Linked DNA regions of Homo sapiens: all the other regions are reported to be linked to region 3. The links are microRNA targets in miRTarBase. Many come from high-throughput screens and were not tested one by one. Region 3 holds a microRNA gene; each other region holds the end of a gene's coding sequence.
The links. Region 3 holds the annotated microRNA hsa-miR-3612 (AGGAGGCAUCUUGAGAAAUGGA, at 1,949-1,970, shown strand). A microRNA usually pairs through its seed, bases 2 to 8, with sites in the 3' UTR of a target mRNA and lowers its output. Matches are read on the target gene's strand: a 7mer-m8 pairs with bases 2 to 8, a 7mer-A1 pairs with bases 2 to 7 and ends in A, and an 8mer does both.

Region 1: the mRNA of TBL2 is a reported target of hsa-miR-3612. Seed matches in the 3' UTR shown: 7mer-A1 at 967-973.
Region 2: miRTarBase lists HAUS3 as a target of hsa-miR-3612. Seed matches in the 3' UTR shown: 7mer-m8 at 2,207-2,213.

The regions. Positions count from the first base shown.
Region 1 is chr7:73,567,854-73,571,207 of GRCh38, forward strand. TBL2 (transducin beta like 2) reads right to left here. Exons shown (of 7, transcript NM_012453.4): 6 at 3,336-3,354; 7 at 1-3,119. The coding sequence ends at 2,654. Among named protein-coding and RNA genes, the nearest start is that of TBL2, 9.0 kb to the right of the region's middle.
Region 2 is chr4:2,229,319-2,232,318 of GRCh38, forward strand. HAUS3 (HAUS augmin like complex subunit 3) reads right to left here. Exons shown (of 6, transcript NM_001303143.2): 6 at 1-2,842. The coding sequence ends at 2,609. The region is part of intron 2 of POLN (DNA polymerase nu); the gene reads right to left. Among named protein-coding and RNA genes, the nearest start is that of HAUS3, 11 kb to the right of the region's middle.
Region 3 is chr12:128,292,157-128,295,510 of GRCh38, forward strand. It overlaps MIR3612 (microRNA 3612), which reads left to right and starts at 1,936; the gene lies at 1,936-2,022. The region is part of intron 1 of TMEM132C (transmembrane protein 132C); the gene reads left to right.

The sequences.
Region 1 (3,354 bases), not on the chromosome of region 3:
TCAGAGAGGTCAACGGACCTACTATCTGCTCTCCAGCTGGAACTGGAACTGAAGACATCTGACTTCAGTAACTCAACATTCTACTGCCACTTCCTGTCCTGGATACACAACGGGAGTAATGCCAGAGCTGCTTCTAAGAACAGGTGCGCAAAGGAAGTGTTTTAGTCTCATTCTTCTGACAATTGCCAAGGAAATACTCCTCAGGCCTTGTGTGCACAGCATTGCCAAAAGTCTGTGGTTAGGAACATACAAAACCACAATGGAGACTGGGAGTGGGAAGATGCGCGGAGAAGATACTGGGAGGTCTGTGGCTTGCCCCTGGCTTGAGTTTCACATTGAGTGCTTACACTGTCCCAGGTACTGTGCCTGGACCACAGAGCTGACAGTGGGATGGTCCAGGAGTCTGCCCGGTGGTGCTCTCATTCCAGTGGGTTCAACAGTGAGCCAGAAGCTGCCAATAAGAGAGTAGTGGACTGCATCGGGCCGACCTTAGTGTTTTGTTTGGTCCAGATAGTGTTTAGTTATTTAAGTTGCTCACTTCTAGCTTCTGTGAAGCAATTTCTGCTGGATTCCTGAATAAGTAGCAGCCACCCCCCATCCTGCAGGCAGGACACAAGCCCGCCCTCCAGCTCACTTCTGTCCCCACCTTCTACTGCCTTACACCCAGGTAACTGACCCTTCACACATTTACGGTGCCCATCTGACATTCATAGCATTTAGAGGGGGGACGAAGCCAGGTTACACAGGACCTTGCAGGCCATGGTAAGAATTTTGGATTAAGTGTTTTTAGCTAGGCACGATGGCTCACACCTGTAATCCCAGCACTTGGGGAGGCCAAGGGGGGTGGTGGATCATTTGAGGTCAGGAGTTCGAGAGCAGCCTGGCCAACATCGTGAAACCCTGTCTCTACTAAAAATACAAAAATTAGCCAGGCGTGGTGGCACATGCCTGTAATCCCAGCTACTCTGGAGGCTGAGGCAGGAGAATCGCTTGAACCTAGGAGGCGGCGGTTGCAGTGAGCCGAGATTGCGCCATTGTACTCCAGCCTGGGTGACAAGAGATTGTCAGAAAAAAAAAATTGTTTTTACTATTTTTGGTTTAGAAAAATTCTTTTGGATTTTATTCCAAGTGTGATGGGAAGCCTTGGGGGGTTTTAACTAGGGAATAATGTGATCTGGTTCACATTTTCAAAAGATCATTCTGCTATATAGAAAAGTAATGAGGCAACAGAGGAAGCAGGAAGATCCATTAGGAAGCCATATTATAGTGGCCCACTAGGTGACAGTAGCCAGGACCAGGATGGTAACAGAAAAGCTGGAGAGAAGCAACAGCCTCAGGATGTCACATGGAGTGTAACCAAAAGAACGTTCTGGTGAACAGATGACAGCTGTGGTGGTGGGACAGAAGGGATAATGAATGGGGAGTCATCAAGGATAACTCCACGGTTGTGGCTTGTTCCAACATTGAGAGGTCAGGGGCAACCAGGGGGGGTCATAGTTTTCGTGAGAGAGATCAAGAGTTTGACTTGGGATGAATAAATTTGCCTACACTCAAGCCTTCCCAGATACCTCATTTCCCTTACCTGCCACACCCACGCAGCCTTCAAATTCACAAATTTAAACTTCTCAATACCGACTCTCTTATCAAATGTACCCCTTCAACTTCAATACCCATTGCCTCTGTCCTGCTCTGGTCCTCTCTTGCCTTGACATATATAACAATAGCTATGAATAAACTAACACAAAGCACTTAATAAGGGTGTATCTCTCTCTCCCACCAGCCATCTTTGATGGCAGAAACCATGTCTTATTCGTATTTAATCCCCAGCTCATATTTATTTGGGCACAGAGTGGGCACTCAAATATCTGATGAACTTGATGAACTGAAAAGAGGTCTCCTTAAACAAGATATCATCTCCCGAAGAGAGAAGTCCCAACCATATAAAATGTATGATCAAGTCCCAGAAAACTTTGCCTTCCCAAGGAATGTGTTTCTAATTTGGTTTCAAAGCACACTGGTTCCCACTTTTACCACTTTCATGACATTGGACAATAGTACTACTCTTTTCTACTTTTCTTCCAGACCTGGGGACTTGATATTCTCTTAGCCTCATATCATCTTTGCAAGGAGTTCACAGAGAGGATTATTCTCCATCTTACAAATAGAACTGAGGCCCAGAAGGAAATCCCTTAGTGTCTTTTTGATGGAACACAGTTCTGTGATGGGAAGCTATCCCAGTCTCCCATCCTTGCAAAACTGCTGCTTAGTACTCAGGTGTTCTCTAGGTTGTTCTGGAACATTTACAAACTTCTTTGGGTGTGAGGATGTGCTGCCACAAGGCCAAAAATCACATTCTCTCTCTCTCTCCTCTCCTCTCTACCATTCTCCTCAGTGCCAGGTGGGGACAGATTCCACCCACTGGGCCTGGGAGGAAGAAAAGCACCTTGGCCACTAGTCAGGGAGGAGTCACAGCCAGCAAGAAGAGAGAGACCTAAGTAGACAAGAGTAGTTTCAATGGGAAGAAGCAGGGCCACCAGTAAGAAAACCAGGAGACTCCTTCTGAAAGGCTTCCACCTGGGAGGAAAGATGGCAGCAGTGCCATGAGGAGGCCAGATCCCTCCTCCTCAATCCTCTGCGCCGGGCCCTCCCAGAGTCACTTCTTCAGGGCACCCAGGCTCTTCAGGGTCTCTTGGGCCTGGGTCAGCTGCTGCTGCAGCCTCTGGCGGGTGCTCTCGTTGGAGGCCCGCTTCAGGTGGCCCTGCATCTCCTCCACCATGGCTCGGTGGCCAGGAGTGTTGTGAAACAGCCGCACCGCCCGGTCCCCACAGGAGGCCAGAAAGCGGCCAGTGATGTCAAAGGACAAGTTGGCGATACACTCGCCATGGACCCGCTCAAAGCACTCCTCCTTCTCGCCCCGCCGGGTATTGTAGAGATGAATACTACTGCCACTGGCCAAGGCCAAGACCTGGGCGTTGGGGGAGAGGGCCAGGCGGCACGGCGCGGCACCCGCCGCCTCTTCAAAGCGGCCTGTCTTCAGCAAGTAGGGGTCCTGCTTCTTCTTGTATTCCACATCTGTGTCCCACAGTTTCCATGTACCATCCTTGGAGACAGAAGCCATCCTGCAACACAGAAAATCACAGCTCAAGCCCCAACACACCCTGGCAGGGTAAGCACTGGCCCAACTTGAGCAGCTCCAGCTAGGAAGCTAAGTCAGCTTCCTGCCGAGGGCCAGGCACCCCACCCTCTTCAGAGCCATGGCACAAACAGACAGAAGGACCCTGGTTGTCAAGAGGGGCCAAGAGCCACTGGTCAGACATCAGAGCGGATTCACTCACCTCCGTGAGTCGTTGGAGA
Region 2 (3,000 bases), not on the chromosome of region 3:
CAAAAATTTATATACCAACTTTCATTTAAAATGTCTATATTCATAACCACAGAAAATAGGCATCAATCATCCAATAATATAGATAGAAAGAAAAAAGCAAAATAGCTAGAGGCTTAATCCAGGTATCATAGTAAATAGATAACTTATTTTCTAGGTGACCAATTTAGAAGCAATCTACTCAAATACATCCTGAGGTTTGAAAAATGTTATTAAATCTTCAAATAGGCTGAGCGCGGAAGCTCATGCCTGTGATCCCTGCACTTTGGTAGACTGAGGCGGGTGGATCACCTGAGGTCAGGAGTTCGAGACCAACCTGGCCAACATGATGAAACCCCGTCTCTACTAAAAATACAAAAAATTAACCAGGCATGGTGGCACCTGTAATCCCAGCTACTCGGGAGGCCTGAGGCAGGAGAATCACGTGAACCCAGAAGGCAGAGGTTGCAGTGAGCTGAGATCATGCCACTGCACTCCAGCCTGGGCAACAAGAGTGAAACTCCGTCTCAAAAAATAAAAAATAAATAAATAAATAAATAAATCTTCAAATAAACCTACCTAGTAACACAACGATTATAAGTAACTTGGGTAATTACGGCAGACACACAACTACCATCCGTGCCTTGATCTGCCCTGCTGGCCCCCTGGGCTGAGCAAGTCAAGGTTTGGGTGGGGACAGTATAAATCAAGCATCTGGGCAGGGGCATGGTGGCTTACACCTGTAATGCCAGCACTATGGAAGGCCAAGGCGGGTAGATCACTTGAGGTCAGGAGTTTGAGACCAGCCTGACCAACATGGTGAAACCCCGTCTCTACTGAAAATACAAAAATTAGCCAGGTGCAGTGGTGCACGCCTACAATCCCATCTACTCAGGAGGCTGAAGCAGGAGAATCACTTGAACCTGGGAGGCGGAGGTTGCAGTGAGCCGAGATCATTCCACTGAACTCCAGCCTGAGTGACACAGTTAGACTCTGTCTCAAAAATTAACTAATAAATCAAGCGTCTGGCCACACATCTAAATATGTGACACTAATTTAAACAGAATATGCTACCATAAACCAGGAAACCAGGTGACATATTTTCCACATTTTTGGAGAAAATAAAAATTTTAAGTAAATTCTCTATTCCGAAATAGAATAGAAAAAAACATATACAACAAAAAAAAAGTTGCTCAGGTGATAGGGAGCTGATAGCAAAATCTTAAACAAAATTTACTGCTACAAAATTAAGGTTTACATAAAATTTTAAATAACATAAACACAATAATTGGCAAAATATTTTTGTTCAATGGGTTTCAAAAATCAAGAAGGTTCATCTGTCATCTAGGTATGCCTGTTTTCTGATGGTTATAGCTAAAAAATTCCATAAAGACCACCCAAAACATGTAGTTTTTAGATTGGCATTCCATATTACGAACAGGTGAGGAATATTCTTAAAGGTATTCCTACAAAGCTCACATGGTATTTACCACAGGCCATGTATAAATTGGGCACTCAAGAAGCATCTGATGTAATAACAGATGAGCTACTTCAAATTATTTTAGAGCAACGCTTAAAATATTTTCTGGCTGCCCAAATACCATTGTTAAATACAATTAGACATTTTTGCTCTTAAACTGATTAAAATAGTATCATACATCTTTTGAGCAACCACTTTTACAGAATTTTGAAATTCAAATTTCATTTGAAAGTCATTTATGATGTGTAAGTCACATTAAAGTCAAAGCACTGCTCAGCTGTCTTGTAGAAACTTTTGAGTCCCCAGAATTCAGACTCTAAAATGAATGCAGGCAGGCCAAGGAAGTCCTAATACTCTGTGGTACAAGTAGGGACATTAAAACAGCCTAAAGGTCTATAGCAGGGAATTATGGAGGAATACAATTTGAGCAGCAGAATTTTATTTGACAGTCAAACATGAGGGGACTTGGCTATTTCACATATTAAGGTCTACAGATTTAAAAATGCTGACTAGAAGTTCTACACATTTTAAAATATTTAATAGCGGCTGAGCGTGGTGGCTCATGCCTGTAATTCCGGCACTTTGGGAGGCCGGGAGAGGGGATCAAGAGGTCAAGAGATTGAGACCATCCTGGCCAACATGGTGAAACCCCTTTTCTACTAAAATACAAAAAAATTAGCTGGGTGTGGCGGTGTGCGCCTGTAGTCCCAGCTACTTGGGAGGCTGAGGCAGGAGAATCACTTGAACCCGGGAGGCAGAGGTTGCAGTGAGCCAAGATCGTGCCACTGCATTCCAGCCTGGAGACAGAGTGAGACTCTATCTCAAAAAAAAATTTAACGGCAGAAAATTTCTATTTCTAAAAAGGAGAGAGATAACTATATTAAAAAATATTTGCATTATGTAATAATGCTTTTTCCCTGTAAGTAAAAAATTACCAGGACTAAGTACCACTAAACACATGCTCAAGTCATAAAAAGCACTGGTATTCTGAATGTACTACATGAGAAAAAAGACAAATTAATATAATAGTTCAATTCATCAAATTAAATGTTCCATTGACCTCAAATTTTAAAAATTTAGTAGTGTTTATTATACACAGTCTTCTAATAAATAAAAGAGGACACGTAATAAAGATTCAGTTTTCAGTAATTTTCAATCTTCAAGACTAACAGCCTTAATCTTTGATTGAGTTTCTAAATTCTCCACAATATCTTTCAGATAATCTTCATCTTTTAAAAAATATACATAGAATTCTCTTTCCATTTGATGTAATTTATTATTTGCCAAAGTTTTTCTTTTTGTCTTCACATCAGCAAGAATATCAGTGAGGAGATGATTTAGCTTATTCAGTTGAGATTCAACTTTATGAAACTGCTCTGTTAACTCCTAAAAAAGGAAAATAAAAATAAAAATTAAAACACTTTATTCCTAATACCAATTATAAAATTAAAATATAATTTACATGGAAAGACTTTAAAGGACTTAATAACTTCCCGCAATTTTAGCAATAAATAAACCTCGATTTAAAATCCATAACAGGTTTA
Region 3 (3,354 bases):
TTTTGTTTTGTTTTTCTGGCTGAATTCTGACAAAATATCACTTTTTTCTTATGCACATTCAAGTTTGCTTTCTGTTTCTTGCAGTCAAAAGAATCGTGGTCAAACAGAATGAAAGGCAAAACTTAGAGGAAAGCCTTGGAAACAAAGCCGGCCTCCCTGAGATTCCTGCTGTGTACAAGGGAGACAGGCCCACACTTCCCCACCTGAACCTGTTTTTGACAATCCCTGCCCAACTTCCTCACCCAGCAGTTGTAAGAAATGGGTTTGTCAATGGTTTTTTCTAACTTGTTCCAGTAGAATGTAAGCTCCTCGTGGGCATAGATTTTGTCTCTGTTGCCAGTACTGAAACCCTGGTACCTAGATGAGTGCTGGGCACACAGCAGGTACTTTGTAAATATCTATTAAGTGTACTTAGTACCTAGGTACCCTAGTACCTAGATGAGGTATTCATAAGTGTCTGTTAAGTGTACTTAGTACCTAGGTACCTAAGTTCCTAGATGAGGTATTCATAAGTGTCTGTTAAGTGTACTTAGTACCTAGGTACCTAAATTCCTAGATGAGGTACTTCATAAGTGTACTTAGTACCTAGGTACCCTAGTACCTAGATGAGGCACTTCATAAGTGTCTGTTAAGTGTACAATAAGAACTGTGGATCATGACACAGTGGAATTAACTTGATAGACTGTTGCTGTCAGCAGTTTTCTTTCATAAACAGAATAGCATAGAAATTCTATTCCTAATAGAGCACATTTCACATGGTAGGTCTGTGTTTTCTGTGTGTTGGTGTAGGTATGTGTATGTGTGTGTGTGTATATGCAAGCACGAGCACCAACTTGTGTTGTAAAATGTGATTCTTACAGTAGACCTTGATTTTCAAAAAATTTGAAAGCCGGACAGCAAGATAATAGTTCAGCTTTTTGTGAACGGTAAGGAGTGTGCAAATCTGAACCTGTAGTGTCTCCTGGATTGCTGTCAGTGAGGACAGAGGATCCTCTTTAAAAACTGGGTCCAAACTCCCTCTGGTCTCATTTTGCACCTCTCCACAGTATAAACTCTCCTTTCCAACCATTCCAAATAACTTAATTCCCTAATCTCAGGGGGCCGTTTCATTGCAGAAATTGCTGCTTGTTCACAAACTTAGTAAGGTACTTAAAAAAGATTTTGTCATGGTTAATAAAAGTCACAGGGTAAATTGGTCTTATTTCTTCTTTTTAGTGCAAAATGTAATCCCTTCACCCTGATTGTTTTGCTTAGTTGTACACACCACCCATCGGGAGGCCAGAAAACTTGTATTTATTTCTAGAGCTACCTCCTTACAGAATTTCAAAGAACCTCGGGGCACTTGAGAATTGGTGTCCAGACAGGATGAATCATTTCTTCTTCAATCAGGATTTTTTATTTTATTTTATTTTGCTGGGGGATAAAGATAAAGATGATTGAACTTGTTTTATTTAGGGGAAAAACAGCCTCTCTTTGAACTCTTGATCTCCACTTCTCAGGAGTGGAGCCCATTTGTAAACTCTCAGGTCTCTCATTGCCTTCTTTGTCTCCCAACCTCCTAAGGTCGAGAGTGATTCTTTATGGCAAAGAGTGAGCATTCTGGAGACTGCACAGCCTCCTCTGAACAAACTGGAGCATATATTTCCCGCATCGTCTCTGTCACCTCCCTGGGTTTTATTTTAATTGCCATGCTTTTCAAAAGCACAATTCCTATTAAATTATTCATGGTGGTATAATGTTTATGTGATCAGAGTAATTATTATAATTACGCATTGTGAATTTTCATAATTAATGACCTCACTCGGATTTCATTTGGTGCAGAATATTTCCGAAGGGGAATCAGGTGGTTGTGTCTGCTGGGGGAATCAGAATGGAATAAAATGGTGACCTATCTTGGGTTTTGCAGAGCAGTAGAAACTTCAGTCATTCACTTTGGGGACTGGGGATGAGGAGGCATCTTGAGAAATGGAAGGAATGGGATCTACTTCCAGTTCACTAGAGGCGTCCTGACACCCCTAGCTCAGCATCTTCCTCTGTGAACCGCCCATGGGAAGGTGTCCAAAGGTGTCCTAGTAGAACAAGCCTAGCAGACCAACAGGAGCAAGGAGACCAGACACGCGTCTCACTTTTGGGGCTTTTGAATGAGACTGGGGCTTACCAAATCTGCAGAAACCAGCCAACAATGCTCAACAGCAGCAAAACCACACTTCAGTGACTCACACAGCAAGGTGGCCCTAACAGGACTCAGGCTTCAGCTGACTTCCTCTCCCTCTCTAATTCTGGAAAGAGTAGAAAATGCAAGCCATTGGAGAAATGGCTGGTGGCACTCTGAGCATGGGAAGAAATTTGATATTTTATGATTGGCACCTGTCTTAGTCTGTTCTAGTTGCTCTAACAAAATACCAGAGACTGGGAAGCATCTAAACAACAGGAATTTGTTTCTTGCAGTTCCAGAGCCCAGAGATCCAAGATCAGGACACCAGCAGATTCACTATCTGGTGAGAGCCGGCTTCCTGGTTCATAGACAGGGCTTCTCCCTATGTCCTCTCACAGTGGAGGGGAGAGGAATCTCCCTAGACCCTTTTATAAGGGCCCTAATCCCATTCATGAGGCTCCACCCCCGTGACCTCATCACCTCCCAAAGGTACCACCTCCTAAGACCTCCATTCTGAAGAGGAGGATTTCAACACATGAATTTTCAAGGAACAAAGACGTTTAGAACACAGCCATTTTGTAGTCAGATTTCAAATATTTTAATGCCTCCATTTTCCTCATCTTTGACTTGTATCTGAGGAACCAATGCTTGGTGTGAGCCCTAAATAAATAAATAATAGATAGATAGATAGGTAGATAGATAAGAAGTTCAAGCTTCTTTGTCCCCCAGCAAAAAAAAAAAATTAAAAAATTGAGAAAGAAATGATTTATCCTGTTTCATCCTGTTTTGTATACAAATAGATGCCAGTACTCAAGTGCCCCAAGGTTCTTTGAAATTCTGTATGGAGCTAGCTCTAGAAATAAATTTATATTATGTTTGAGACAGGGTCTTGCTCTGTTGCCCAGGCTGGAGTGCAGTGGCACAATCACAACTCACCGCAGCCTCGAACTCCTGGCCTCAAGCAGTCCTCCTGCCTCAGTCTCCCAAAGTTATGGGATTACAAGTGTGAGTCAACACACCCAGTCCCAAAATAAATATTTGGTATAGCTATAGCTATTCACTAAGACCTTTCATCAGCATCATTCCCTCTCAGCCTCAGACCTACTTGAGGGGAAGGCAGTTCCATCCCCATTTTACAGATGAGAAAACTGAGACGTGTAGGGTCACATGGAAAATAAATAATGACCGCCTTGAAACTG